4 linked regions of the Homo sapiens genome follow. The protein of the gene in region 3 interacts with the protein of the main gene of each other region in a pairwise test. Each region holds a gene or a part of one and is shown on either strand. Other genes may lie near its edges. The genes, in order: FBXW2, PHETA2, CLVS2 and S100A7A.

Region 1 (5,971 bases), on a different chromosome or scaffold from region 3:
GGAATCACAACTGAATCTATTTTGCAGAAGCCCCAGGAGACTTTGGGCAATGATGATGGTAAATGACTTTTTACTTTATTATTATTTTTTTTTTTTTGAGACAGAGTTTCGCTCTTACTGCGCAGGCTGGAGTGCAATGGCACGATCTTGGCTCACTGCAACCTCCGCCTCCTGGGTTCAAGTGATTCTCCTGCCTCAGCCTCCTAAGTAGCTGGGATTACAAGCATCTGCCATGACACCCAACTAATTTTTATATTTTTAGTAGAGACAGGGTTCCACCATGTTGGCCAGGCTGGTCTTGAACTCCTGACCTCAGGTCATCCACCTGCCTTGGCCTCCCAAAGTGCTGGGATTACAGGCGTGAGCCACCACGCCTGGCCGAGTTTTTACTTTTTATCGAGCCTGAACAGATAACTATTACTGATCTAATGACCATCCCCACCCTACCTCACTTTCAGATCTATCCAATAGCTTCAAAGGGCAAGTAATTATAATCATTTGTGGGAAAAGTTTTATTAAAAAGTGACAAACTTGAAGCTGTATATAGTATGTTCTATTTCAGTTTTTAGTGGTGAATACAGAAGTCATCAAGGTGGTACTTGGTGCCGCTGGAATTTTTTTTTTTTCCTAGGCAGTCTTGCTCTGTCATACAGGCTGGAGTACAGTGGCATCATCATGCAGCTGGATTTTGACAGCAGAACTTCAGGCAGTAATTGGAGTCCTAATGTCAGTTCTTCCTTATGGAGGCCTTTATTTGGCCTGAGATTTTATTCAACTACTTTATAGATGCTGGGTTTATTCATACTATCGCCAGTTTTTATAAAAATGGAAAACTAGCTCATCCTTTTTGCAAAAGAAAGCAAAGTGGGGAGTCAGAATGAGAAGTGGATAGGGGATAACTAAAACTATTCTTTACTCTCCTTTCATTGCCTTTGAGAGCTAGCTCTTGCACACACTGACTTTGGCTTCCTTAGCGCATAGGTAAGGGAATTGCCTTTCCCTCTTTTGTGAATATTCTCATTTCTGAAAAATTCTAAGTCATGAGAAGATAAGCCCTATCCTTTCTTACAAGGATTGGATTTCTTGGGTGACACTGTGGTGTGGTGGAAGCCAGCGGCTTCTTTCAGGTTCATAAAGGCCATCATAACAACTTCAGGCTTCATGGTGTGGACAGGGATCCAGGAGAGCTGAGTGGATGTGTGAAGTTTCTGATAGATTCTGTCATCATTCCAAAGGAATGTAGTTTCCTCCAGCTCAATCATTTGAAGTAATACACATTGCCAAATCTGACTGTAACCTGACATTTTAGACCTATTGGAGAAATAGGAAGAAAGCCCCTCCAGTGGAAGGACTGGACTTGGAAGAAGTTCTGCAGGAAGGTGCATGCAATTGGATAGCTGTTCATGAGTGAAACGTGGGGAACATTGCTATGAAATTGTAAGGTTTGCACTTCATTTTTCGTAGTTTAAAAATTGCTCTGTTCTGGCTGTTGAAAACACTTGGTGTGAGGTTTGAATGAGGATTATATAATCATTCTAGTATTCATAGGAAAATGATTACTGCTCTCTATTTGTAAAACAAAAGAAATAACTTTCGGAAACAGTATTTTAGACATGAGGAAATTGTTTGTATTAGGCATTTTGATCTAACAGAATCAGCTAAGGATAGTGGATCCTGGCTTTACACATTTCTTTGACCAAACCCAGCTGGCAACTTGAAGTTGTTACTGTGTGGCTTCCAGATTGCCTAGAGGTGAATCCTACCAACATCACTGTTTTTTTTGTTTTGTTTTGTTTTTTTTGTATGTTTTTGAGACAGAGTCTTGCTCTATCCCCAGGCTGGAGTGCAGTGGCGTGATCTCGGCTTACTGCAACCTCAGCCTCCTGGGTTCAAGCGATTCTCCTGCCTCAGCCTCCTGAGTAGCTGAGACTACAGGCGCGTGCCACCACGCCCAGCTATTTTTGTATTTTTAGTAGAGACGAGGTTTCACTATGTTGGCCAGGATGGTCTTGATTTCTTGACCTCGTGTTCTGCCCGCCTCTACCTCCCAAAGTGCCGGGATTACAGGCGTGAGCTGCTGTGCCCGGCCCCAGCATCACTTTTATAGCTTTCTGTGCCTCTTCCTCTGGGCCTTGGTGTATGAAGCCACTTGCCTTTCTCTGTTGGGAAGCGAGCAGAATCAGATTGCTACTCATGATGCAGTCCGGGCAGGGCATACTGTCACCTTTGCCTGTGGACACAGTTGTCAGGATAGGGGAGAAGCCCTTTAGGTCCGTCTTCTTGACACAGCCCTCCTACCTGGTTACGCTGGTGCTTTCGCTTGGTTTAGACAACCAAGACACTTGAGAATTATGCTGTCCTCAGAATGTCTGATGAAAAGAACAGATTCACTTTTTTGACACAATGCCCATTAGCCATCTTTGGCAGTGTTTCTGATCAAAGGTTCCCCATGCCTGCTCTAGGAAAGTAAACTTTTTTCAGAATAAATCCTCAAATGGATTACTGAGTAGTCTTTGCACCATTCCCATCAGCCTAATCAGACTGAATGGTCACGCTCAGTGCAAAAAGCTGTTTTGCTGTTAGGATGTTTCAGTGTTTCTTGTCTTTCCTGGAACAGTTCAGTTGTTTAAATTTAGTAATTCAATCCTGACCAGTGTAAACCCACTTAATTATTGCAGCCTAAAGAATTCAGCTACTTCTACTCTTCATAAATGTGCCCAAGTAAATATGTGTTTTTAATATTCAACCCTGGAAAATTAGTAATTCAGATGATAAAAGCTCATGTTTTGGTGTCTTTGTACTCAGATTGTGAACAGGCATATTTCACTGATTTAGACTTAGTATACTTGATGAGAATGCTCAGGTTGAAGAGATAGTTCTGTCAGCAATCCAACATCTATAGCAATGTGGAAAAAGTAATCAACTCATATTTCACGAATTTGATGTATGTTGTGATTTAGAGGGCATGAGATAAAGTTTATATTTGAACTGTGTGGGGTAGGGGGAAGAAGAGGTTGCTTAAGCAAATAGTGGGGTGATTGTGGAACAAGATGTCTCTAAGATGAGAAGTTATTTTCTTGCATCATAGAAGCACTCTTTTTACCCGTGAGTGATTGTGTTAACTATAAATCATTTATATCTGTACATTAAAGCAGATTCCCTCAATTAGGCAAATTTGGTTAGCCAAGCCCAAGTTATTGTTTGTACTTGAAAGTAATAAAGCTGCATTTCCTTAAAAATATATTCTGTAGTTAAGACTTTGTCTTGCTTTCCCCCCAACCACTTCAGACATTTTATCCAACCAATGCAGGGACTTTTCAAAAGTCAGTGTGTTTTTGAAAATAGAACAACCCCTTGAGTGATCTGAGGTGGCTCTGTTTTTTTACTGTTTCTGCATCTTCTAGAAGGTAAACTCAACAATATAACCATTTCTGAAGGTGATCCAAAAAGCAAAACAATAAAGGTAAAACACAAGGAAATAATTTTGGTGAATTTCATGAATAGTTGCAAATGAAGGGATGGGGTGGGTAAAAGTCCCATTTTGCTTCCAGACCTTGGAATAGTCTTCCTCTCTTTTGCCCAAGGATGTGTCTATCCAGCACATCTTTGCATGAGTTCTTTCTTACTAACTTAAACTTACGGGGCTTCTTGTCATTTGAGTACCACGGCCCTGCACCTTTGATCCCCTGACAGCATCATTAAGGGCAGATTGTCATTCCTGTTTTACAGATGAGAAAGCTGTGGCTTGGTAAAGTGATTCATTGCCTAGAGGAGTTATAGTAAGTGGTGAGGCTGAAGCCCTGATTTTCAGCCCCCACACACCTGGATTTTTTCCATGTTTTCATGTTTGTCTGTTCTTTCTGTATTTCAAGTCTCTTCAAATCCCGACTGCTGCCTTCTGCCTTCACCACTTGTGTGCACTGTTCAACCTGTCTTATGCTTTGCTTCCAGGGAGTCTCCCCAACCACTTCTTTGAGCACTTACTTGCTCTTGTTCAATCTTGGTAACTCTCCGTTACCATCAGGGCACATCTGGATTCCTTAACATCATGGAGCCCTAGCTAATTTCTTCGAGCAAACAGTTCTTGCTCCTCTATTTATTTCCACCCTTGCGCTTTGGGTGTTAATCTCCCATCCTCGTGGAAAGTTCTTGATGTTCCTTTCCACCAGTCCTAGGGCCAGGCTTTAATCCCATTGATCTCCCACTATCTTTAAAGCCTCTGCTGACCACCATACCCCACTCCAGCCTCACTGAGCATTTTTGTGTAAGGTTAGTGGTGCAGTTCATTTAGCAATAAATACTGTTGTACCTTTTGCAGTAGACAACTATTAACTTTCATCCTTGATTCTCAGTTTTTTCCAAAATACAAGTGAATACCTGGTTTCCCCAGCAACATTGTAAGATTGAGAGTAGGAATTCATTGAGATTTTAATGAATTCCATGGATTGTCTTAAGAGCTATCTAAACTTGGAAGAAAAATAACTTCCAGAGCATCTAAAATTGAAAATAAAAGATCAGAAGCAAATGAAAGATCAATTCCACACAGCTTTTCCTCTCTTAGACGTCCCTCTTCTGCCATATCCTGTAAACATCTGAAGTGTTCTGAGTACATTTGGAGAGAATATTTAATGATCACACTGTGATTAGACATGAGTAGTCCCTGCCAGTGGGATGTTCCTGTCCTTTGCATTTTAACCACATGTTCTGTGCTCTCTGTGGTAAAGATAATCTAACAGTAATAAAAACTTATGGAGAAAATTACCCAGAGCTCCTTTATCATTACGATTTTTAATACTCTCTTCTAATCCTTATGCACATGTGTATGGATTTATGTACTGCAAATCATTGTTTTGTAATACATTCTCAAAAATGTGCTTTAGGTTTTTACAACTACCATAATATTTTGTAATTTTCCTTCATTACTGTAATTTGCTAAACCATTTCTGTTTTGGTAGATAATTAGGTAGTTTCCAGTTCTGCTTTTTAGAAGATACTACAGAGAACTTCTTTGTGCATATTTCCTTAGAACAAGTTCCAGTAGAAGACTTACTCGCAAAAGCAGTGGAATTTTTTCTTAGTATTTTCTGTTACAGGTACAGAAGAGTGCATACAACACACAGTTTTGTCGAATAGTTATGAAGTGAACACTTGTCTAACCACTGCCCGAGTCAAGAAAGAACATTTCTAAACATGTTTGCCAATTTAATAGATATAAAGGAAGTATCTCAAGGTTGCTTTAACTGACATTTCTTTAACACATGACAACATTTTTATGGGGGAGGGGACTAGAGAGAAAATGACATATTTTTATGTGTGCTTATTTGTATCTCTTGAATTCTGTCTGCATCTTTTACCCATTACACTTTCAAATACTTGTGAAATCATTGGTCGAGATGAATTATGGCTATAAATAAAATTTCACTAATCTAATTATCACTGATTTAGAAATAATAGTTCAACCCAAGACATGCGTTGAAGTGTTCTTTCATTACATAAAAAGGATTTGTGTCAAGTAAACCTATACACAATCTGTTTACATATTACTGGTTTATATGGTACATCACAAATTATGCAAAAAGTAGATCTAGTAAGACCCAGTACCAAAGATTAGAGCTAGTCAACAATACTATTTAAAGGAAAATATGGACAGTCATGAGTCAAAATGTTTTTTCCCCAAATTAACCATAATATATATTGAAGTTTAAAATGAGGAATTCATTTTGGAAAGCAGCCAAGCACAGATTCTAAGAACATAGTAATCCTGTGTTTTATTTTTACTCAATGCAGACTCGAGGGTGTCAGGTGTGCTTTTATATCTCCAGCTTCTAAGTTCAGAGAGGAGATTTTCTATCTGAAACTTTTTATAGGATAGCAAACATTCCTGAGTTTCTTAGTTCAGCAGGTTTAGCCATGTAAGGCAGCTCTTGGGCTAGTTGATCTTTCAGGCTTTAAGGGCACAAGGCTTAAACTC
Region 2 (7,783 bases), on a different chromosome or scaffold from region 3:
GAGGCAAGAGAGATGGCAGCAGATCAGAGAGGGAGGTGGTTCCGTGCCCTCCTGGGGAACAGCACCGGCTCCAGAGGCAACCTGGACCCCAGCCCTGGGACTCCTACTCGCTTGCTGTGTCCCTAAGGTCCCTAAAGTCTCCTGAGAAGTGGGCTCGTCTTTCCTTCCTTTTCTCTCAAAGGGATGTCGTGAGGATCATGCAAAAAAAACTGGACACTGGCGGACTTCGAGAAAAGAATAACGAGATTGCATCAGACAGGAGGCATGGCAGGACCTGGGCACGGCTTTCTAAAATCCAAAGAAACAGGCCCCAGCTGAGCTGAAATGGACCCCAGACCCATCGAAACCACTGTGCTTAAACTATCCCCTCATCTGGGGTCCTCTCAACTCCAACTCTGAGGCCAAGCTTCCAGGGTTTCCATGACCCTCCTGGGCCTCTACTGGCCTCTTATTTGCATATAGCTGTTGAATCTTATTGACCTACAGGCAGAAGCTGAGGCACAAATATAACTTTAAAGAGTTTACTTGAGCGAGAGTAAGGATAACTGCCCAGAACAAACTTCTAAGTTGCCGTGGGGTGTGCTGCGTTGGGCCTTTCCTACAGGTTTTTATAGGCAGAAGGGGGCAAGGATGACAAAGTTGTTTGGCAGGAATTCTCCTTGGTTTATAGAAATAACATTGATTGGTGGGGTGCGGTGGCTCACATCTGTAATCCCAGCACTTTGGGAGGCCGAGGTGGGTGGATCACCTGAGCTCAGGAGTTGGAGACCAGCCTGGCCAACATGGTGAAACCCCGTCTCTAAATACAAAAATTAGCCAGGCACGGTGGTGGGTGCCTGTAATCCCAGCTACTCGGGAGGCTGAGGCAGGAGAATTGCTTGATCCCAGGAGGCAGAGGTTGCAGTGAGCCAAGATTGTGCCATTGCACTCCACCTGGGTGACAAGAGAGAAACTCCATCTCAAAAAAAAAAAAAGAAATAACATTGATTAGTGATTGGCTATACATTGTTGAACTATAGGGTATGAACTATAGGGTGTCCAGTGTACAGCATTTTATGGCTACTTGGTGTCACTCTAGAGCCACATAGCAAGTGGCTTCAAGAGGTAATTCTTGATCCTTTTGTAGTTCATGAGCGTGATGATTGGGTGTTCACATGCATGTGTGAGCTGTGCCACCCTCGAACCTTGTTACCATGTAGGCACATTACCGATCTGACATGAAGAAAAGAAAAGAAAAAAAAAGAAAAAGAGATAATTCTTTAGCTCAAGGGAGGAGTAAGACTTGACAGCTGTTGCGTTTCAGTATGTCTGGGCCTGATTATTTAAAGGGGCTCCAATTCCTCAGATAAAACATTATTTTTCTGTCTCAATCTGCAGCCTTCAGGGCCAGATGGGGAGCTACTCTGTACACAAGAGTGTGGCACAAACCCAGGGTACAGCTGAGAAGAGCTAACCACAGCCATTGAATGTGGGTGCCCCCAGCATCATGAACGGCACTTAGTCCAGCTGTCCTTACTCATGGAAAACCAAGGCCCAGCGCAGTGAGGGGAACTTGCCCAAGGTTACATGGCCAATGAGACGCAGAGCTTCGTCTCCCAAATCCCTCACACTGTACCCACTTACCAGCAGGGCTCACTGGGGGAGGGCAGGGACCTCTTGTCTGGCCACACAGCTCAGCCCTTCGACCACCTGGTTCCCAGGGAACCTGCAAAACAATTCTCAAGCCCAGTCAGCTTATCCCAAAGAATGAGAACTCCTACTCCACCTTCGAGGCCTAATGAAACCACAGCCTCCACCGGGAAGCCTTCCCTGACCCCTGAGAATCCCCCCACCCATCCACCCAGCCAGGAACCCCTGAGCAGCTTAAGGGGATGGGTCCCCTTGTCTTGACCTTTACTCTTCAGACCCCAGCTCCCTGCCTGAGTCCAGGTCAGAGCTACACATGCCCTCATGGTTCCTAGCTTTTCCCTTCTAGCACTTCCTGGCTTTAACTGAAGTCACCTAATCTGGGAGGCCTTCCATGATCACCATATCATCTAAGGTGGCCCTGACCACCAAGGTGGCCTGACCTAAGGTCACCTGACCAGTAGACCCCCCCATTTCTGGTTTGTTTCCTTCATCCCACGACGATGTCATATGTGTTTACAGCACTGTTCCCAGCCCCAGAATGTCTAGGGTGGGGCTCAGCTAAGTTCCCAGGAGAACCCCAATACCCAGCACCGTGCAGGGCTCAGAGAGGCCCTCAGGAGGGATCTGTTGAATTAATGGGGATACATCAGTGGACAAATCGAAGTCTCCCGCCCTCCTGGAGCCTACATTCCCACAGGGGGAAACACACTGTAGGCAAACAAAATAAATACTAATAAATTAATGAAAGAATAATTAGTGAAATAAGAGATAACATAAGGACCGGTAATGCTAAGGGTTATGGAGAAAAACAAGCCAGGCCCCTGGATGGGGAGAGACGCCATTCCAGTAGGGGGGGCCCAGGAAGGGGGAAGAGATCACAGATGTTTGCCAGAGGAGTGGCCTCACTGGGGGTCCTGGGCCCAGCACTGGGGCACAGGGAGGGGGTGGGCAGCCCGTGGGGCCATGACCCCTCCCCTCCCCCGCGTCTGGGGAAGGGCGCTCCCTCCTCTCCACCAGTAGGGGGGCCAGGCCACCGCACACCGGGCCTCCCGCCCGCCCCACCGTCTTCCTGGATTCTTTTGTTGGAGGAGAGGCGGGCTGGGGGTGCGGGACCGCCGGGCCAGTGGCCACTGCGGGGAGCCCCAACCCGGTTGTCGCCCTAAACAGAGGTCACCTCGGTCAGGGTCTCCCTGGCTGCCGCCTTGGTTTCCCCGTCCTCGCGTCGGGGCTGTTCGCCGCCACTTCCCCGCGGCCACACCTTCCCTGGGGCCACCTCCTCCCGGAGCCCGCCGGGCCCACTCTCACCTCCCGCCGCCGATCGCACCGAAGCCCAAGAGGGCGATCCCAGCTCGAGATCCCGCGCCTCCGCCTGGGCTGCAACGTGGCCGCGGGAGCCGGGAGACCCCGCCCGGGAGGCTGGAGTTAACGCCCCTCCCCGCCCAGTATTCGCCAGGCCCGGGATCTCCGAGGCCGCCTCGAGGTCTGCCAGGGCGGGAAACTGAGGCCCGAGAGGGCGGTGAACTGCCCGAGCCACAGCACTGGTCGGTGCGGGCGGCCTCGAACCCAGAGGCCCCCCTCGGACGGTCCGCGGGCCTCGGACCCAGCCCACCGTCCGGAAAACTCTGTCCATCTCTTCCTCTCTGGTCCCCCTCTCCCTGCTCGGCCCACTTTCCCGGCAGAGCCAAACCAGGGATGTCTCTGGGTACCTCCCTAGGGTGGGCTCCTACACAGCCCGCGAGGGCCAGCCAAGCTTTGTTGGCCACCCACCGGGCCACCGGGGTCGGCTGATTTCTGCCTCTGGAAATTACCCATTTCTGCTTCCCTGGCCTGAAACCCACCGGCAGCCCCCAGGCTCTGCACTAGTGGGTGGAGGAGGAGGCCTGCGGTGAAGGTCGCAGGAATGCACAACCAAACCCAAGAGACTGGAACTTCTGGAAGGCCCTGGAAGCCGGAGGTGTCCTCAAACATCTGCCCATGAACCTGGCTCCCGCCTCAGAGCCTTTGCCCTTGCAGTTCCTGCAGCCTAGAATGGCCTTCCTTCCCACCCCCAACCGCAGCTCCACTCCTCAGGACGCCTCTGGACACAGATTTGAGTCTCTGCTCAGTGGTCTCCTCTGGGACCATTGTAAAGCAACCTGCCCTGCAGTCTCTGTCCCATCCCTGGGGTGTTATTTCCATCAGAGCACTCACTGCTAGAGTAAACTTTCCTATGCTCATGCTTTTATTTTCTTGTTTATTGCCTGTCTCCCCTACTAAATTTTATTCAGTTAATACTGTACACCATAATAAATGTGTTAGAAGATAATAAGTGGCATGGAAAAACAGAGGAGGGTAAGGGAGATGGGAAATTGTGGGAGTAGGGAGGTTGCAATTGCAAATAGAGTGGTCAGGGTAGGCCTCACTGAGAAAGTAACATTGGACAAATACTTGAAGGAAATGAGGGAGCCAGCCATGCCAATTCCAGGCAGAGGGAACAGTCAGCGCAGTGGCCCTCAGGCCTGTTGTGCTTGAGGACCTGCAAGAAGGCCAGTGAGGCTGGGAGGCCTGGGGAGGGGCAGACAGTAGGAGGTGGGGGTAGAAGGGGTGGGATGGGGCTCTGTAAATCTGGGAGGGCTGTTACTCTAGACAGGGCTGTGAGGAGGGACCTGAGCGATTTCAAGGCATACTCTGGCTTCTGTGGTGAGAATCAATGTCAGTGGAGGCTGGAGACCAGTGAGGAGCCTGCTGCCACTATCCAGGCGAGATGTCACAAACGCGGCAAGAGCGGGGAGGGAGAGGCAGCCAGAATTAGAATGGCTGTTGAAGGTAGAGAACACAGGATTTGCTGAGGAGTTGGATGTGGGGAGTGAGGGAAAGAGCAGGCAGGACTGCACAGTTTTGGCTTGAGCACCTAGGAGAGTTGTCATTATCTGAGATGTGGAAAGTGGCCGGTGCTTGGTCTGGGTTATGTTTGAGACACCCAGTGGCCATCTGAGTGAAGGTGCTGTTGGGGCTCAGAAAGCGATGCCTAAAAATATGGCACTTGGGCATGCTGAGTACTTTGAACCAAAGGACACTGGAAGAGCCTCAGAAGCAAAGTATCTCTCTGACCTTCTCCTGCCCCCCTTCTTTCTCCTGTTTTTCTCCTGCAAGGCAGGCCATAGAAACTAAAAATCCTCCTCCCTAAGGTGAGTTATAGCAACTACAAATATTGGCTGGGCACAGTGGCTCATGCCTGTAATCCCAGCACTTTGGGAGGCTGAGGTGGGCGGATCACGAGGTCAAGAGATCAAGACCATCCTGGCCAACATGGTGAAACCCCATCTCTACTAAAAATACAAAAATTAGCTGGGCATGGTGGCGTGCGCCTGTAGTCCCAACTACTTGGGAGGCTGAGGCAGGAGAATCGCTTGAACCTGGGCGGCGGAGGTTGCAGTGAGCAGAGATCGCGCCACTGCACTCCAGCCTGGTGACAGAGGGAGACTCTGTCTCAAAAGAAAAAAAAAAAGAAAAAAAAGTAACTACAAATATTACTGGAAACATCCCCCACCTTTCTGTGTCGGGCCTGGCCATAAAGGAATTCTCTGATCTACCTTGCCTGATACTAGGTCATAAGACTCTCATTCCAGAAGGGGTCCTGCCCTCCTCCCAGCAGGAGGGAATGCCACACAGAGAGAACAAGAAGAATCCGAATCTGAACAGACATTGCTGGGTTTCCACACTCAGCTATTAACATTAAATCATTCCCTTTTGTCTAATCGCGTTTATACACAGTTGTCCATTCCTTATTCCTTTTTTTTTTTTTCTGTTGCCCGGGCTGGAGTACAGTGACACAATCACAGCTCACTGCAACCTCGACCTCCTGGACTCAAGCAATCCTCCCACCTCAGCCTCCCGAGTAGCTGGGACCACAGGCACCTGCCTGGCTTTTTAATTTTTTGTAGAGACAGGGTCTCACTATGTTGCCCAGACTGTCCTTAAATGTCTGGCCTCAAGCGATCCCCCTGCCTCAGCCTTCCAAAGTGCTGGGATTACAGGCATGAGCCACCAGACCCGGCCAGGGCTGTCCATTCTTCATCAAACCGAGACATAAAAATAAAGATTTCCCTGAGTATTTGTGTCTTCATTCCTGAAGGCTCTCAAGTCACATAAAACATTGAGTAAATCAATCTATTATGCTTTTCTCTTGCTAACCTATATTTTATTTGTAGGAGTGTCCGCTGTGACCTTTGGGATGAGTAAGGGAAAATATCACACCTTTCTGCCCCTACAATGCCCAGAACAAAGCATTTGGCACTTAGCAGTTTCTCAATAAATACTTGATGAATGAATGAAGAAGGAAGTAGCCCAGTCTGTGCGAGTAGTCCCTGAGCGTCAGGCGGGGAAGGAGAGCCGGCTGCCTTTGCGGGAGCTGTGACCGCCTGCTTTGGTGCCTCCCACGCACCCTCCTTGTAGAGACGATTAATCCCAGACTTCCATTTTCCTAGCAGCTCACTAGGCGGGCCTTGCTTCAGAGCAGTCTCTCATTTCCTCTGCACAAAGCCCTCAACCGTCCTCTGCACGGCCGCTTACTGAGCGCCCACGGTGAGCCTGGCACGATCCTTGCCCTCTTGGTCCCCACAGAGGTGGAAGGACAGGCCTCGCGGGGTCCGGGCCACGAAGGACAGCCCCGAGTCCGTTCTGCCAATGCCTGCCTCGCTAGCACGCAGGGCGGGAGCCCAGTGGGGAAGGGCTTAGGGAGGCTGGGAGGCCGGACCCATATGGGCGGGGCACAGCGTTGCTAGGGGGGATTCTGATAGGTTGCGCGAAGGGTTGCCTTCGTGAGGCCCCGCCCTCACTGGAACGCTTCGGACTTATCAGGTTACCGGATTCGAGTCAGAAGCGGCGGCAGGTCTGAACGCTTCGGTAGGATAAGTGCGGTGGGAGGGGGCTCTGCGGTTTTGGGGAGCCCAGGGCGGGAACCCGGACCCGGCTGGAAGTCCGGAGCCTGGCCGCAGCCCCGCCCCTCCGCTCTTTCTTGGTGACCTTAAGCCAGTGGCTGCCTTTTTCTGAGCCCGGGCGGGGCCGAAGGCGGCCCGTAGGCCCTCGGGACTCCCAGCACTGCAGAGGGTGTGAGGTCTGACATCCAAGACACGTTGTTTCGTATTTCTGAAGGAAGAACTGAAGCTCCGGGAAGTGATGGCTGGGGATGGGGCGGGCAACTTGGGGACCGAGTGTACGATCCACGCCTAAGGTTGAGGGCGGCCGAGCTAGCCAGGCAGCCGTGACCCCAGTGCTTTTCAGACGTTTCTTAGCTTCCAGAGCCCAACACATACAGCTGATACACGCAGACCAGATCTGGTCAGGTCCTCGGAAGCTGAGTCCAGAGCGATGCTGCTGAAGACAGGTACCTACACCGGCTGGGGTGGCTTGGAAGGGTAGGGGTGAGTGCTACAAGGAGTGCTTTGGCCCTTCTTCCCTAATGTGGGTATGTGGAGAGACAGGTTCCTCTCTCTTTTACTTAGAGCTGGGCAGGAAGGGAGGAGATGCTTCCCCATACGGGAATCATTTCTCCTTCAAAGGGGCCCTTCCTTTCTCACTTCCTCTCCCTCAAGCACAGAGGCCCTAACTGATGGATATCAGCATGTGCGGAGAACCGCCTGTACAGTCCCTACAGTAACTCCATATTACAGATAAGGAAACTGAGGCCCGAGGGGGAAAGGTCTCACTTAGGTGAGCTGATTGGGTGCCCATCCTGGCTGGCTTACTTCTTAAGCCTCTCTGAGGCCTCTTGAGGGTCTGTGGTAGAGAGCAAAGAGCTCTGGACTGGGGCTCAGGAGACCTGGAGTCTGGCCAATGGTCCCGACTTAACGATTTTTCAACTTTACTGTGGTGTGAAAGCGACGCACATTCAGTAGAAACCACAGTACGTATACAACCTGTGTTTCAGTATTCAGTAAATTGCATGAAATATTCAACAATTTATTATAAAATAGGCTTTGTGTTAGATGATTTTGGCCAGCTGTAGGCTAATGTGCGTTGTCGCACTTTTTTTTTTTTTTTTTTTTTGAGACGGAGTCTCACTCTGTCACCCAGGCTGGAGTGGAGTAGAGTGGCGCGATCTCGGCTCACTGCAACCTCCATCTCCCAGGTTCAAGCAAGTCTCCTGCTCAGCCTCCTAAGTAGCTGGGATTAC
Region 3 (6,986 bases):
TTGGTAACTGTAAATGTCTTGTACGATGGCTCCAGAGATGATTTAAACTAACCAGATGCATTGAAAGTCACCATTCACAGAACTAAAAATACACCAATGTTTTAACAAGCAGCTTCTTATGATTCATAGCTCTGGTAGCATTTTAAGTCCCATGAAATATATTTAACTTTGAACTTAATTGAAACTACCTTGCACAAGAGCCTTTTATAATTTCTTATATCTTTCAGTCTGAGAAAACAGTTCTGAAGGAGGACAGAGAAGTGTCATTGCCTGCATTTTTCTATAATAATGTAGATAAAAAGAATATTATTTCTTCTCTATTAAGTAGCACATGAGCTCAAAAAGTCCACCAACTGACACATCTGAATATTTTCCACTTCCTTCCAAAAGATGAAAAATCACATGAGACAGGAGACAGATTCTTTAGATTAGTGGCAGGTGTAGGACACATACACCAGTCAGTGTACATTTTCAGTGTCAGCAGGCATGCTCAGCGACAGAGGATGCAACTCTTCCTTTCACTGAAGGGACACAAATCATATTATTCCTTCTTCTACACATCACCAAACAGAGAACTTCCCAAGCAACAAAACTACTTGCTTTTGGTCGAACGCCAGGCTATGCTTAAAAGATAAAACGTCAGTACCAAAGAGAGGATGATGATGATGATGATGACAATGATGATGGGTCTAGTTTAAGAATTTTTTTAGGAAGAAGGAGGAAAAGTTGTCCCCATTTTCTTACTGGTTTATCCAGCCCAATAAACTTTTTCAGAAGGTGAAACATACAGAGAAGCTTTATTTACAAGTTAAGTGATTTAGATCTCTGTGCAATAACGTGGTTAAGGTAGCACCTTAAAGCTGCAGTAGAAAGTGGGTGTTAGTGAAGTAAGTTTTAAAAGTAAAAATACAAGCCCTCCTCCCTTCCCAGGGTGCCCACCAAAAACTCATCTCCTGGTTTGTTTCTCTTTTCTCCAAGCCAAATAAACAAAAATATCAAATCTACAAAACCATGACACTACTCGGGGTAAATTCTGGAAAATGGGAGAGTAAAAGGAGAATACAAGTTTGGATTTAGGATTTACCTGCTCTGATCCCAATTGGCAGCAAAAAGGACTAGAATCTTCCTGCCATAGTGGTCCAGATTGGCCAGGCCCCCAGGGAAGCCATCCTTCAGTGCCTGCTTGATGCCAGGGTCGGTGGCCTTAAAGCTTTTGAACATGTCCAGGTTCTGCTGCCGGTACTCAAAGTACTGCGCCAGGAGGCGGAAGGCCTCAAAGTGATGAAACTTCCTAGCCCGCAAGAAGCGTAAGATGAAGGCATCATCCGTGCGCAGAAAGCCAATGTCCGGCCTGGTGATGACCATATCCCTCACCTCCTGGATGTCCTGGTGCAGCGTGTCTGGGTTTTCATTGAGCTCCAGGCGAGCTTTCTCCAGGGTCTCAGGGGAGAGACCGGCTTGCAAATGAGTCATTGTTCTGCCTATCTCTGAGCTTTCCCTCAGAAGACCTTGTTGACTGTCCCAAAGCAAACCTGGTCCTTGCCACCACCAGACTCCAGCCCCCAGACCTCCTGCTGCCTGCTTCCTCTCCCCTACAGGAAATTAATAATCTTGGTGTCCAATCAAGTGCCCTGTTGCTCCTGCTTTCCCCCAGCAAAGCTGGGGGGGCCGGGGGGTGTAAACTTCTTCCTCTGCCCCCTAAAATACAACACCCTACTTTGGCTCCCTCTTTCCTTTCCTTTAAAGAGATGTGAACCCCTGAAGGGCTCCGCACTCCTCTTCTTGTCCTTTCTCTTTCCTAACAAATCACCCCTAATTCCACCTAGCACGGGTGTTTCTGATCTTGGTACTGTCCTCTTCTCTTCTCTTCCAAGATGTAACAAAAACAACCCCCACGCACATCTCAGCCCCTGCACTGTGAATGTTCCTGCGGTCCCTGCTGAAGGATACGCCTGCCAGGGGTGGCGATGGAAATTCTGATTAATAATAAGGTAGCTCTTCAGCGCTGAGCTCCAGGGCGGAGAGAGATCATCTTTGCCAGAAAGAAAAAGAGACAGAGAGAAAGAGGGGGGAGAAAGGAGATTATTTCTCCCTGTACTTATTCAAAGACGCTATTTTTAAAAGACAAATTTGTGTGATTTATTTAAGATTATTGTGATCCAATTAGGTGAAGACTCTGCAGATAGCGCACCTTCCCACCACCCCTCTGAGATACACCGTGATCTCATAAGGCACCAGCAGGGGTTCTGGTGGCGTTGGTACCAGCGTGGGCTCCCCCAACCCCACCCCCAACTTCTGCCTTCCTCTAGCCCTTCATTTCCACGGACTTGCCGCGGGGTTGGAGAAAAGGGGGGAGGGGGAGGGAGGGGACCGGGGATATCTCTGGGAATGCACATTTCAAAAACGAAGAGAAGGGGAGGACGTTGTGAAGAATAAAATAAAAATGTCCTTATCTTTTCTATAAAACCCCAAAGCAAGAAAGAAGAAAGAGCAGCCGCTCCTACCAGCAAACCCAGAGGCGGGGTCGCTAAGCAATGCGGCACTCCCTGGCATCCATCAGCCGCGGCTTCAGCAGCGGCGGCGGCGGCGACAGCGGCATCAACTCCTCTGGGCGGGATGGAAGGAGCAGAGAAGAGGGGTGGCGGCGGGGACCCGGGCCGAAGATGCGCTCGGGAGCAGCCGCGGCCACATCGTCCGCGGGCAGCCCGCAGCCTCTCCTAGCAGGAGGGGTGAGGATCGCAGGGCTAGGGCCACCGCTGTCCCAGGTTCTCGCCTGGCCCTGCCATTTTCGCCTTCGGGAGAGAAGGTGGGGAGGAGGACGCGAACGCCTGGATGGAGAAGGCCACTCGGGCGGCCACCGCCTTTGTGAGCCCTCCGGGAGCAGCCGGGGAGGTGGGCGCAGCGGGGCGGCTGCTGCGCGGCGCTGGCCTCTCCTGGGGCTCTCCCGAGCGGTCCGAGTCAGGGTTGCCCCACCGGGCTGCGGCGGCGGCTCCGGCTGCTGCTGCTGAAAGAGGACTCGGCTCAGCCCAACTCCTCTCTAATTATCCCAGCACAGATCTCGCTGCGACGTAAGCACTCACTCAGCTCGCGCGCGCGCTCCGCTCCTTTCCCTGCCTCGTTGGGGTAGGACGGCAATTTGGGTGGCATCGAAATATCCCGAGCCCTAAGTTTAGGCTGCTCTTCGTCCCCACTCCTCAGCAGGCTGCTGAGCGGGCGTCGCCGGGCCAGGCGGGGCAACCATGCTTTCCAGCCTCCCCACGCCCCTCTCTTCGCCCTTTGTGTGCAAGACCCCAGATCAGCCTGGAGAGTAGCTGTTGTAGACGGTAATTCACATTGACACGCATTTTCTCGTTCCTGTAGGAGGCAATTTTGATGTAGAAGGAGTACGGAAACATTCTGTACTTTTCGCATTTGTTGTAGACAGAGATATTTAATTTAGAAAACACCAGAGTGGTTCCAAGACAATGTACTGATGATTAAGCCTCCGGAGGAACTTATATGAATAGTTTTTCAACCAGTCTCCCTGCTAAATTTCTGTTGAAGAGGATGAAAATGAGCACTAGGGTAAATGATAATAAAAACATAATTCTCAAAGGAAGAAAAAAATAGGAACTTCACTCATATCTCATCATAAAGCAAATATTTCTGGAAACACATACCATCCTTCCTTCAGTTGTATGCATCTGTATATGAGAATCATTATAAATAAACAGAAGTCCTTGCGCTTAATATGACTATCTATGGATTTGAGGAAAAGGGATATTTTCTATTTTCAAAACACAGCACATATTACTGAGCGTGTTACTAAGAGCAACTTTTGACTTTATAAACTGTAGAATGGGGTCTTGAATTGAAGTTAATTCAATGCAACTAATATTTACTGAGTTCCACGAGGTGTGGGGCATTTTTCTGCATTCTGTGTATAGGAGGTGGTCTTGAAGATAAGCAAATTTTGTCATTTTCTTATCTTGACATTTCTTATCTTGTCATTTTCAATGTTGATGACTATGAGAACCCTCAAAATACAGGCACACTTGTTTTTGCTCTTCTCATGGCGATGGTGTTGATAAAAAGAAAGAAGGAAAAGGGTTGTATGGTAGAGCTAGAGCATTTATTAATTAAATTAATGCAAATTAATGTAGGAACCCGAATAAGACAATAAATTACACACACACACACACACACACACACAGTCATTATTGTCAAGGAATTTATGTTTTAAATGGGGAAGGCAGAAAATAAACCACTTAAGTGTGTGTATATGTGTGTTATATATATGCACTATATATAAGGTCCTTCTAGGATTTTAAGTGATTATGACTTTCTCAAGCATGCTGAATGCAATGTGAACTGTTAAATTTTTGGTTCTCATTTTAAAACATTTGAAAAAATCATTTTTTCTAATATTTTAGAGGTTGAAGAAAATTTATGTTTCGTATCAACTGTATGAAGAAGTTTTAGTCATCACCAACATGGAGAGACAATTCTCCCTGGATCCGTTGTGTTTCTACCTGTCTTATGACCAAGGCACTAATTGCCCTTTTTTCTAGACTGTCTTCTCAAGGGTATTTGTACAGTAAATAGTCTTGGAAGATATTGGAAGATAGAGATAGTACCTCCATCTGAAACAAAGCCTTGAAAGCTGTGATATCTCTCTCCTGACCAAAAGGTAGGCAAGCTTATTTGAATTCCCTAAACTCAGAGCTATTCTGCTGTAATGCCACCCATTGTTTATGCCAGTATCACTTGATCCTCTTTTCTTAGCTATCTGTGGGAATTAGAGCTCAGGGGACCAGTCAATGCAAGATATGCAGATGCTCATACTGCCCGCTATGCCTGAGTGACAAAATCCTTTATCTCGAAGCCAAGAGTTTTGCATCTTCCATCGGCATCCATGAAACTACAGCCAGCTAACTTGTTAGCCTGTAAGTGAAGTTAAAATTCAGATCTTTCACCTTGATGAAAAAACAGTTGTTTAATTTTGTTCTCTGAGATGGACATATTAGACTATATTTTTAAGGGAATTTATAAAATAAAATGTATTTTTTGGCCCAGCATATGTTATGACCAGTATTGAAGGTTGAAGGATGACATTTTTATTATTTATTATTTACCAATAACAGAATTGCTTCAAATAGATTTATTTTAACATATCTACATATGATAGAAATAGTCTCTATCACCCAGTAGGATTGTTGGAGCAGGTCAGTTAGGTATATATAAGATTTTTAAATCATATTTACAAAACTTTAGTGATTATACTGTTATTCTCTCTCTACTTATACATTTGAACTCAGTTCTGAAACCAAAATGAATACACGAAGCCATCTAAAATTAAACAAGGTGTTTATTCAGATGACATCAGAGCATTTGATTTTCATTCAATATTAATCTACCTTGCCAAATTAATGCAAAGTAATGTAGGAACTGGAATATGAGAATAAATTATCTAAACAAAAGTATTAATTAAAGCATTATTGGAAAAATAATTAAATCAAGGACTTCAGGTGTTTTCAAGTAACTAGAAAGAAAAGTTTGGTTTACTGCTATATTTAAAATGAGTAGAGTAAGTACTTTATGTTTTAAAACATTTTATTCCCTTTATTGTTAAATAAAATATATGCACAAAAAGGAGCACAAAATAAAGATGTACGGCTCAATTCTATCTTACAAGGGAAACACACATGTAAGTGTCCAACCAGGTTAAGAAACCAAGCATTGTCAGTAGCCAGAAAGCCCCCTCCCATTCCCCTCCTAACTACTGGCCTCTTTCCAACAAAGGAAGCCACACTGTCTTTATTTTAAAAGTAATCCTTGTTTGTTTTTTTTAAATTTTACCAACTAAATAACTACAATTTTGTTTTTCTGTTTCTGAACTTAAATGTAATCATTTATATGTAATGTTATGATTGACCTCTTTCATTCAATATTAAATTTGTGTGATTTGTCTTTGTCAGTGTTGTTGTATGTAGCAGCTCCCTCATATTCAGTAATGGTGCATAAAATTGCATTTCTTTTTTTCCTGAGACGGAGTCTCCCTCTGTCACCCAGGCTGGAGTGCAATGGGGTGATCCTGGCTCACTGCAACCTGCGCCTCCCAGGTTCAAGTGATTCTCCTGCCTCAGCCTCCTGAGTAGCTGGAATTACAGGCACACGCCACCACTCCTGGCTAATTTTTGTATTTTTCGTAGAGACAGGGTTTAACCATGTTGGTTAGGCTAGTTATGAACTCCTGACTTCATGATCTTCCAGCCTCGGCCTCCCAAAGTGCTGGGATTACAGGCATGAGCCACCGCACCCAGCCGTAGAATTTCATTTTTATACACCTACTACAATATGTGTGTCATTCTACTGTGGAGGGAAATTTGGGTTGTTTTCAGTTTGGAGCTCTTATGAACCATGATGTATGAAGATTCTGGCACATGTCTTTTGGTGCACATGGAGAGACCTAGGAATGAAAATTTCTGGGTCATATGTAATGTGCATCTCCAAATTTAGTAAATAATGCCAAACTGTTTTCCAAATGGTTGTTTCACCAACCCCCAGCAATATATGAGTGTTCTTACTGTGCCATGTTCTCAGAAATCTTATTATTGTCTATAATTTTAACTTTATCCATTCTGATTTTGAACAAGGGTATTGTATTATGGTTTTGGTATGCTTTCCCATCACTACTAATGAGGTTAAACTTTCACGTTTTTTGGGCCATTTGTACATTATTTGTGTGAAGTGTCATTTCAGAGATTTTGCTGATGTTTATAGTGGGGTGTTGATTGCTTTAATATTGAATTGTAGAGCTTCTTTATAGATTCTGAATATAAACCCTTTGTCAGCTGCACATGTTGTGAATATCTTCTCCATGTCCATGGCTTGTTTCTTTCACTCTCTTAGCCCTGTCTCTTAATCAACATAATTTTAAATTTTTAGGTAATTCAGTTTTTCTCCTATGAATAGTGCTTTTTAGGTCCTGCTTAGAATATCCCATA
Region 4 (7,064 bases), on a different chromosome or scaffold from region 3:
GATCAGCTCTGCTGGAGGCCATAGGGGGAACGTTGCTGGAGGGACATTACTCCTGGGTGACCCACTGGATGGGGGTGGGGGAAATTCTCCAACAAAGTTAACCTGGAATTGGTAGTTTTGACAATGTAGGTCACCAAAGAGAAGAAGAAATAAGGCAAGTGTCTGGTGGGAGGAGACACTTATTGTTCCTGGGGTCTCTGGAGGCCCCTTGGTGGGGCTGGATCACTGGCTTCCCCCAGAACAGGGCGCCGCTCCATGGCTCTGCTTGTGGTAGTCTGCGGCTATGTCTCCCAGCAAGGACAGAAACTCAGAAAAATCAATCTTCTTATCCTCATTCTTGTCCTTTTTCTCAAAGACAGTGGCGAGGTAATGTATGCCCTTTTTGTCCTGTGAAGAGAAAAACATACAAAATAGAAAAATTCAATCACAAACAAGTTTTGGGCTGGGAGGGGAGAGGAGGAGGCAGAGATACAGACAAGTACCTAGATCTGCACAGGCATGGTCGTGGGGCTGAGAGCACAGGGTGAGTGGGTGAAGTTGGGGTGAGGACGTGAGTGTTATCCCTGGAGTTCTCTAAGGAGACTTTTTGTCTCACACCTCAGGATGGGAGGCAGGTCCTGTCCCGAGGCACTCTGTTAAGTGACCTTGGGGAGAGCAGTCCCCTGCCCCAGCCTCAATCTTGCCTGTTCCCAGCATTTAAGGGCACTGCCTACCTTAGTTCTACCCCAGGGCCTCAAAATTGGCCCTCATGCTTTGTTCTCTTCTTTCTCTGACCTCCTCTCCTTTCTTCTCCTTTTCCACCAAACTCATCTTCTGGGTTCCCTACTCTTGGTCATCTAGACCCTTTGGTACCTAGTAGCCCACAGGTTTTTTCAGATTTGCCAATGAGTTTTCTTTATTGCAAAGAGGGCTATTGATTTCTACTAGCAATGGAACTTCTAGTGCTTTCCCAGTAATCTCAGGGATGTTGATGTGGGGCCTTTGGGAAGCAGGACCTGAGCATGTGAGTTTCAGTCTCACAGAGAGAGGGTCAGTGAGCGCTGGGAGGGGACTGTGCACTGTCCTCAAGCTGCACACTTTGCTGACCATCTAATAACCTCCTTTATATCTGTATAACTCTTTCCCATTTTCATACTTTTTCGCCTACCATCCTTAGATTCACATATGATCCAAGCAATAAAGCCCTATTTGCAAATGGGAAACTTTTTAATCAGAGGATGAGGGTGACCTGTCCAAGGCCACATAGCAAAATGTATCCTCAGCCATGCCAGGGTCCAACCAACATTGAGAAGCTAGACCCCAACTCACACAGGCACTGAGGAAATTGGGGAAGTTCTCCTTCATCATCGTCAGCAGGCTTGGCTTCTCAATCTTGCCATCACGTCCGGTGTATTTGTGAAACATGTCGATCATGCCTATTATGGACCTCTCAGCTTGAGTGTTGCTCATCTTTGCTTTCAAAAAGCCTTCAGGAAATAAAGACAATCATTTCTTACCTTAGTTTGAATTAAGGTCTCTATGTGGGGGTGTTAGAAGGAGGGCTGAGGACAGAGTAAAAACAGCCCTAAGATGGAGCAGAAGGAACTTGATTTTTTTAAATGTGATGGGATAAGTTGTTCAAAAATGAGAGGGTAGGACCAAGTCTGAGACCCGGCCCATCCTGGCCAGGGCCAAGAAGAGATGCAGGTGGATGGCAGAAGTCCAGCTGTGGACAGTGCTTCAGAGAAGGAGAAGCAGGGAGAGTCGGAGGCCAGCAACACATAGAAGAACTAAGCTGGGACCCCCCAGCCTCAACCAGCACATGGCGGACCCCACTCTTGAAACAGCACCAAATCCATCTCCTCCAGCTTCACAGTCGGGGTGAGAGTCACGGGGGCAGGACAATGGCCTTGGTGATCTGGTGTCTGACCCTCCTCGGCTGCTTCAGGAACCAGACACCGTGGGCCCCACCTTGACTCAAGTGCAAGCCCTGCATGACACAGTGCGTGCAGGCTCCAGGTGCACATGTGAGCGTGGACATGAGTGTGAGCAGGAAACACAGCCCTCTCCCGAGGACAGGGGGCCCTTCCTACATTCCCTTGGGAATGAGAAACAAGAATTGCCTCTGTTACAAGGAACAGAAATAACTCCCTGGTTCTTAAGCTGCTGGATGGGGTGGGAGTGAGGTGGGAGTCGCTTCATGTCTGCTCTTGGGAAATATCTGCACCCTCTGAATCACCAAGGGTTGACCCTGTTTAAATAAAAATGTCTGACTTTCCAAAGCAGATCTTCCAGCCAGTAGCCAGCCTGGGCTGCCCTGCACCCCAAGCCTGAAAAATAAGACAGTGCAGCTCTCATTTCTACACTTTCCAAAGAACCAGAAAAGGACCTTGGCTAACGCATGTGGGCATCTGACAATAAACCCCCAACACCTCTCAACGCAGGAGAAAGCTCCGTGCCAGCAACTGACTAAGAGAAGCCACTCAAAGCTTTCTGAATCTGAGGCCAAGGCCAAGGCCAGAGGCCAAGCCCTGTGCCCAGAGATTGACTGAGAATTTACAGGTCCAAGGCCTGGGGGTTTGGAGAGCCTCCAAAGCATTCACAGGGGATCCTTATCCCTCCTCCCTCTGTGGGGGCAGAGCTGGGGAGGGGATTCAGCAACTGGGATCCCAAAAGGAGAATGAATCCAGGGAGGAAGAAGACAGGAAGGAAAGGGAGGGTCCTGTGCTCAGGTCCCACTGGGGACATTTCCACAGGAGTTGTCTCAGGAGATCCCAAAGGAGCAATGGACAGGTCTGGTTCAGCCACCTGGTTGTACAGACGTGGGCTTTTGGGGTCAAGTGAAGGTCACACAGCCCAGCTAATGGCAGAGCTGGCCTAGACCCAGGCTTCTGAGACTTTGTCCACAGCCCTTTCCCTTCCTACAGGCAGCATGGCAGGCTGGGCACTGGGCACTTCTAGAAAATGCAAAGAGGCAGGTGAGACTTACCAGAACTGGGAAGTGTCACGAGTAGAAGGATGAGTGAGATGTGTGTGTTTGGACAAAGAGCAGTCCTTTATAAGGCTCAGCCTGGCTCTTCCCACGGGTTGGGAGGCCTGGGGCCACCTCTGTCATCTGTTTCTTGGAGGCTTGTCCCATATCAGGTGTGTGGGACACACCCAGGAGGCTGTGCTCAGGATTTCTGGCCAGGGTCCCAGGTCACCAGGTCCCACCCCACCCCAGAGACCTCACCTGGGGCCTTCTCTGGCTCAATCTTGATTTGAGGGTAAGGCAGCGGTACATGTGTAGTAACAGGTCAGGAAATGGGAGAAAAGAGCACTGGGCCTCTGGACCCAAAGAGAATGGAGTTTCAGACTCCCAAAGGCAGCATGGTCTTGTTTATTCCCTCCCCCAGTACTTCCACACATTTGTTGTGACAGCCTGTTCTATGACCCCCACCGCTTACTGAGCGTTTTAATGTCTAGACATCAAGACACCTGCTGCTCTTGCATCCTCCTCAACCCTCCCCTCATAGTCTTAAGAAGCAGGTGCTGCAATCTCTATTTTAGGAAAGGAGAAGTTGAGATGTTCCCAAGTTTACTCAGCTAGTAAACACAACAAATCATCACACGAACAAAGAAAAGCCTGAATCAAATCCTTACTCTTATCCCCTGTGCTATAGGTCTTGGGTTGCATCAGGGTCTGCCCTATGGGAACTCAAAGTCCAGGGAGGGAAGCAGGATTACTTCATTGCTAACCATTGGTCAGCCCCTCACAGAAGCCCTGGATTTAGGTGGGGGGACTGGGGTCAGGGGCCTCACTATCTAGGTTGAGTGGTGGAGTGACCCCCGCCCCCCCCGCCCCATGGAATGAGCCTGGAGGTAGGGAGTGGGAAAAGTTCTTTCCTGCCCCATGGCACTAACTTCCCAGAAAGTCTTCAGTGTTTTTCCTCCTCCTATGCAAAACAGCCTGTGTAGGAGTTGGGAGTTGTGCCCTTGGCTATAATGTGCCCTAACCTGCTGTGGAAAGCCTGAACCAGGTAGGGGCAAGAGGGTTGGGAAGGCACAGGAGTCCCTGGGGCATGGTGAGGAAAAGGAGATGATGAATCACTGAAATGGACTTTTTCTGCTACCCCCTTACAATGTTCCTTGTAGGCCGCAAGAGGTCCTGGTTCATTTAGTGCCAGCCCTTTAAGCACTCTGGGGCTCCATAGAGCTGATGTGATGTCTCCCTAGGTGGGACCTATTTTCTCCACCCATCATCTTTCTTCAACTTCCTTCTCTGTCAGTTCTTATGTAACCAGGGGGACCTGTTTCTCCCTCTCCCAGTTTCCCATATGACGGCAATATTACTTTTAGCGGCAAAAGATACACACACACACACACACGCACACACACACAAACACACACACAAACGCACACATACACACACACACAGACGAATACTACTCAACCATAAAAAGAATGAAATGATGACTTTTGCAGCAACATGGATGGAACTGGAGGCTATTATCTTAAGTGAAATTACTCAGAAAAAGAAAGTCAAACACTGTGCACCCTCATGTGTAAGTGGGAGGTACATCATGCATACAGATGGAGGTAGAGAGAGAGTAGAATCATAGACACTGGAGACAGTGAAGAGCAGGAGGTCAGGTGGTGGGTGAAGGAGGAGACATTTCTTAGTGGGTACAATGCGTGTTATTTAGGATGGCTGCATTAAAAGCCCGGACTTCACCACTGTGCAATGTGTTCATATACATGTGTATGCAGGTTTTTGTGTGGACATAAGCTTTCAGTTCTTTTGGGTAAATCCCGAAGAGTGTGATTTCTGGATCCTATGGTAAGAGTATGTTTAGTTTTTTAAGAAAGCACCAAACTGTCTTCCCAAGTGGCTGTACTATTTTGTGTTCCTGCCATCAATGAATGAGAGTTCCTGTTGCTCCACATCCTTCTTTAGCATTTGGTGCTGTCAGTGTTCCAGATTTTGGGCATTCTCATAAGTGTGTACTGGTATCTCATTGTTGTTTTAATTTGCATTTCCTTGAGGACATATGATGTGGAGCATCAGCTGATATGCTTATTTGTCACCTTCTGTATCTTCTTTGATGAGATGTCTGTTAAGGTCTTTGGCCCATTTTCTAATTGTTTGGTTTGTGTTCTTATCTCTGAGTTTTAAGAGTTCTTTGTACGTTTTGGATAACATACAAAGTCTGATATGTCTTTTGTAAATATTTTCTCCCAGTCTGTGGCTTATCTTTTCATTCTCTTGACAATATCTTTCACAAAGCAGAAATGTTAAATTTTAAAGAAGTCCAGCTTATGAATTATTTCTTTCATGGATTGTGCCTTGGTGTTGCATCTAAAAAGTCATCACCAAAACCAAGATGATCAAATTTCCTCTTATGCTACCATCTAGGAGTTTTGTAATATTATGTTTTGCATGTAGGTCTATGATTCATTTTGAGTTACATATCATCACTGTTTATAAAAAAAAGGAACAGAAGAAATGCAATACAAAAGGAATCAGGGACAACAATATTAATACAAGACAACAAAGAATTCTAAGAAAAGGGATTAAATGAAAAAGAAGAATATTTCCTATTGATTAGTGTGCAAGTCACCAAGATGCAATAGTCTTATCTTTTTTTTCTTTCTTGTTTTTTCTTTTTTATGAGACACACTTTTGCTCTTGCAGCCCAGGTTAGAGTGCAGTGGTGTCATCTTGGCTCGCTGCAATCTCCTCCTCCTAGGTTCAAGCGATTCTCCTGCCTCGGCCTTCTGAGTAGCTGGGATTATAGGCGCCTGCCACTATATCCAGCTAATTTTTGTATTTTTAATAGAAATGGGGTTTCATCATGTTGGCCGGGCTGGTCTCGAACTCCTGACCTCAAGCGATCCACTCATCTCGGCCTCCCAAAGTGCTGGGATTACAGTTGTGAGCCACTGCACCTGGCAATAGTCTTATCCTTATATACACAAGAACATAATATTGAATTATACAAAGCAAACATTGAAATAAATTAATGAAAACTGACAAATTTATATCACTTGGCAGTTTCTGGCAGAGTCTGCCCAGGAACTCAACAGAGTCGTCAGATAACAAAACACCAGTAATGGTGCAGAGCAGGGCGGGCAGATGCTGCCACAGCCCAGAAGCAGCCCTGGACATAAGGGCCCCGTGGATGAAGACAGCTGTTTCTAGTAAACACTAATCTCCAGAATTGGTTGGCCAGCTGGATTTGGCTTTAAGACCATAATTTGCTGATTCCTGATACAAAATATTTGAAGGACACACTTAAATTTATTTATATACACGTGCATTCATAAATTTGTGCCTGACCATAGAGAATACATATAAATTTCTTTTTTTGTATTGAGGTTCTTTATTAAATTAATTATATAATCTGTATTAGATAATTAACGTTTTTACAAAAATTATTATTATACTTTCAGTTCTAGGGTACATGTGCACAGCGTGCAGTCTTGTTACATATGTATACATGTGCCATGTTGGTGTGCTGCACCCATTAACTCGTCATTTACATTAGGTATATCTCCTAATGCTATCTCTCCCCGCTGCCCCAACCTCACGACAGGCCCTGATGTGTGATGTTCCCCTTCTTGTGTCCAGGTGTTCTCATTGTTCAATTCCCACCTATGAGTGAGAACATGTGATGTTTGGTTTTCTATCCTTGCGATAGTCTGCTGAGAATGATGGTTTCCAGCTTCATCCGTGTCCCTACAAAGGACATGAACTCATCCTTTTTTATGGCTGCATAGTATTCCATGGTGTATATGTGCCACATTTTCTTAATCCAGTCTATCATTGATGGACATTTGGGTTGGTTCCAAGTCTTTGCTATTGTGAATAGTGCTGCAATAAACATACGTGTGCATGTGTCTTTATAGCAGCATGATTTATAATCCCTTGGGTATATACCCAGTAATATGATGGCTGGGTCATATAATGGTATTTCTAGTTCTAGATCCTTGAGGAATCGCCACACTGTCTTCCACAATGGTTGAACTAGTTTACAGTCCCACCAACAGTGTAAAACTGTTCCTATTTCTCCACATCCTCCCCAGCATCTGTTGTTTCCTGACTT

What was found.
Region 1: the proteins of CLVS2 (region 3) and FBXW2 interact in binary tests that used the Homo sapiens proteins (3 or more experiments, as listed by UniProt).
Region 2: the proteins of CLVS2 (region 3) and PHETA2 interact in binary tests that used the Homo sapiens proteins (3 or more experiments, as listed by UniProt).
Region 4: the proteins of CLVS2 (region 3) and S100A7A interact in binary tests that used the Homo sapiens proteins (3 or more experiments, as listed by UniProt).

The regions. Positions count from the first base shown.
Region 1 is NC_000009.12:120,756,467-120,762,437, reverse strand, and holds the end of FBXW2 (F-box/WD repeat-containing protein 2), read left to right. Parts: 3' UTR 1-5,464; downstream 5,465-5,971. UniProt on the Homo sapiens protein: Substrate-recognition component of the SCF (SKP1-CUL1-F-box protein)-type E3 ubiquitin ligase complex.
Region 2 is NC_000022.11:42,069,493-42,077,275, reverse strand, and holds the start of PHETA2 (sesquipedalian-2), read right to left. Parts: upstream 3,029-7,783; 5' UTR 2,935-3,028; intron 1,706-2,934; 5' UTR 1,624-1,705; intron 1,218-1,623; exon of another isoform or gene 1,115-1,217; intron 1-1,114. Other genes in the region: NAGA (alpha-N-acetylgalactosaminidase precursor), read left to right, coding at 6,979-6,994. UniProt on the Homo sapiens protein: Plays a role in endocytic trafficking. Required for receptor recycling from endosomes, both to the trans-Golgi network and the plasma membrane.
Region 3 is NC_000006.12:122,992,265-122,999,250, reverse strand, and holds the start of CLVS2 (clavesin-2), read right to left. Parts: upstream 3,017-6,986; 5' UTR 2,505-3,016; intron 2,033-2,504; 5' UTR 1,474-2,032; coding exon 1,085-1,473; intron 1-1,084. UniProt on the Homo sapiens protein: Required for normal morphology of late endosomes and/or lysosomes in neurons. Binds phosphatidylinositol 3,5-bisphosphate (PtdIns(3,5)P2).
Region 4 is NC_000001.11:153,412,468-153,419,531, reverse strand, and holds the start of S100A7A (protein S100-A7A), read right to left. Parts: upstream 3,013-7,064; 5' UTR 2,969-3,012; intron 1,467-2,968; 5' UTR 1,450-1,466; coding exon 1,309-1,449; intron 388-1,308; coding exon 223-387; 3' UTR 1-222.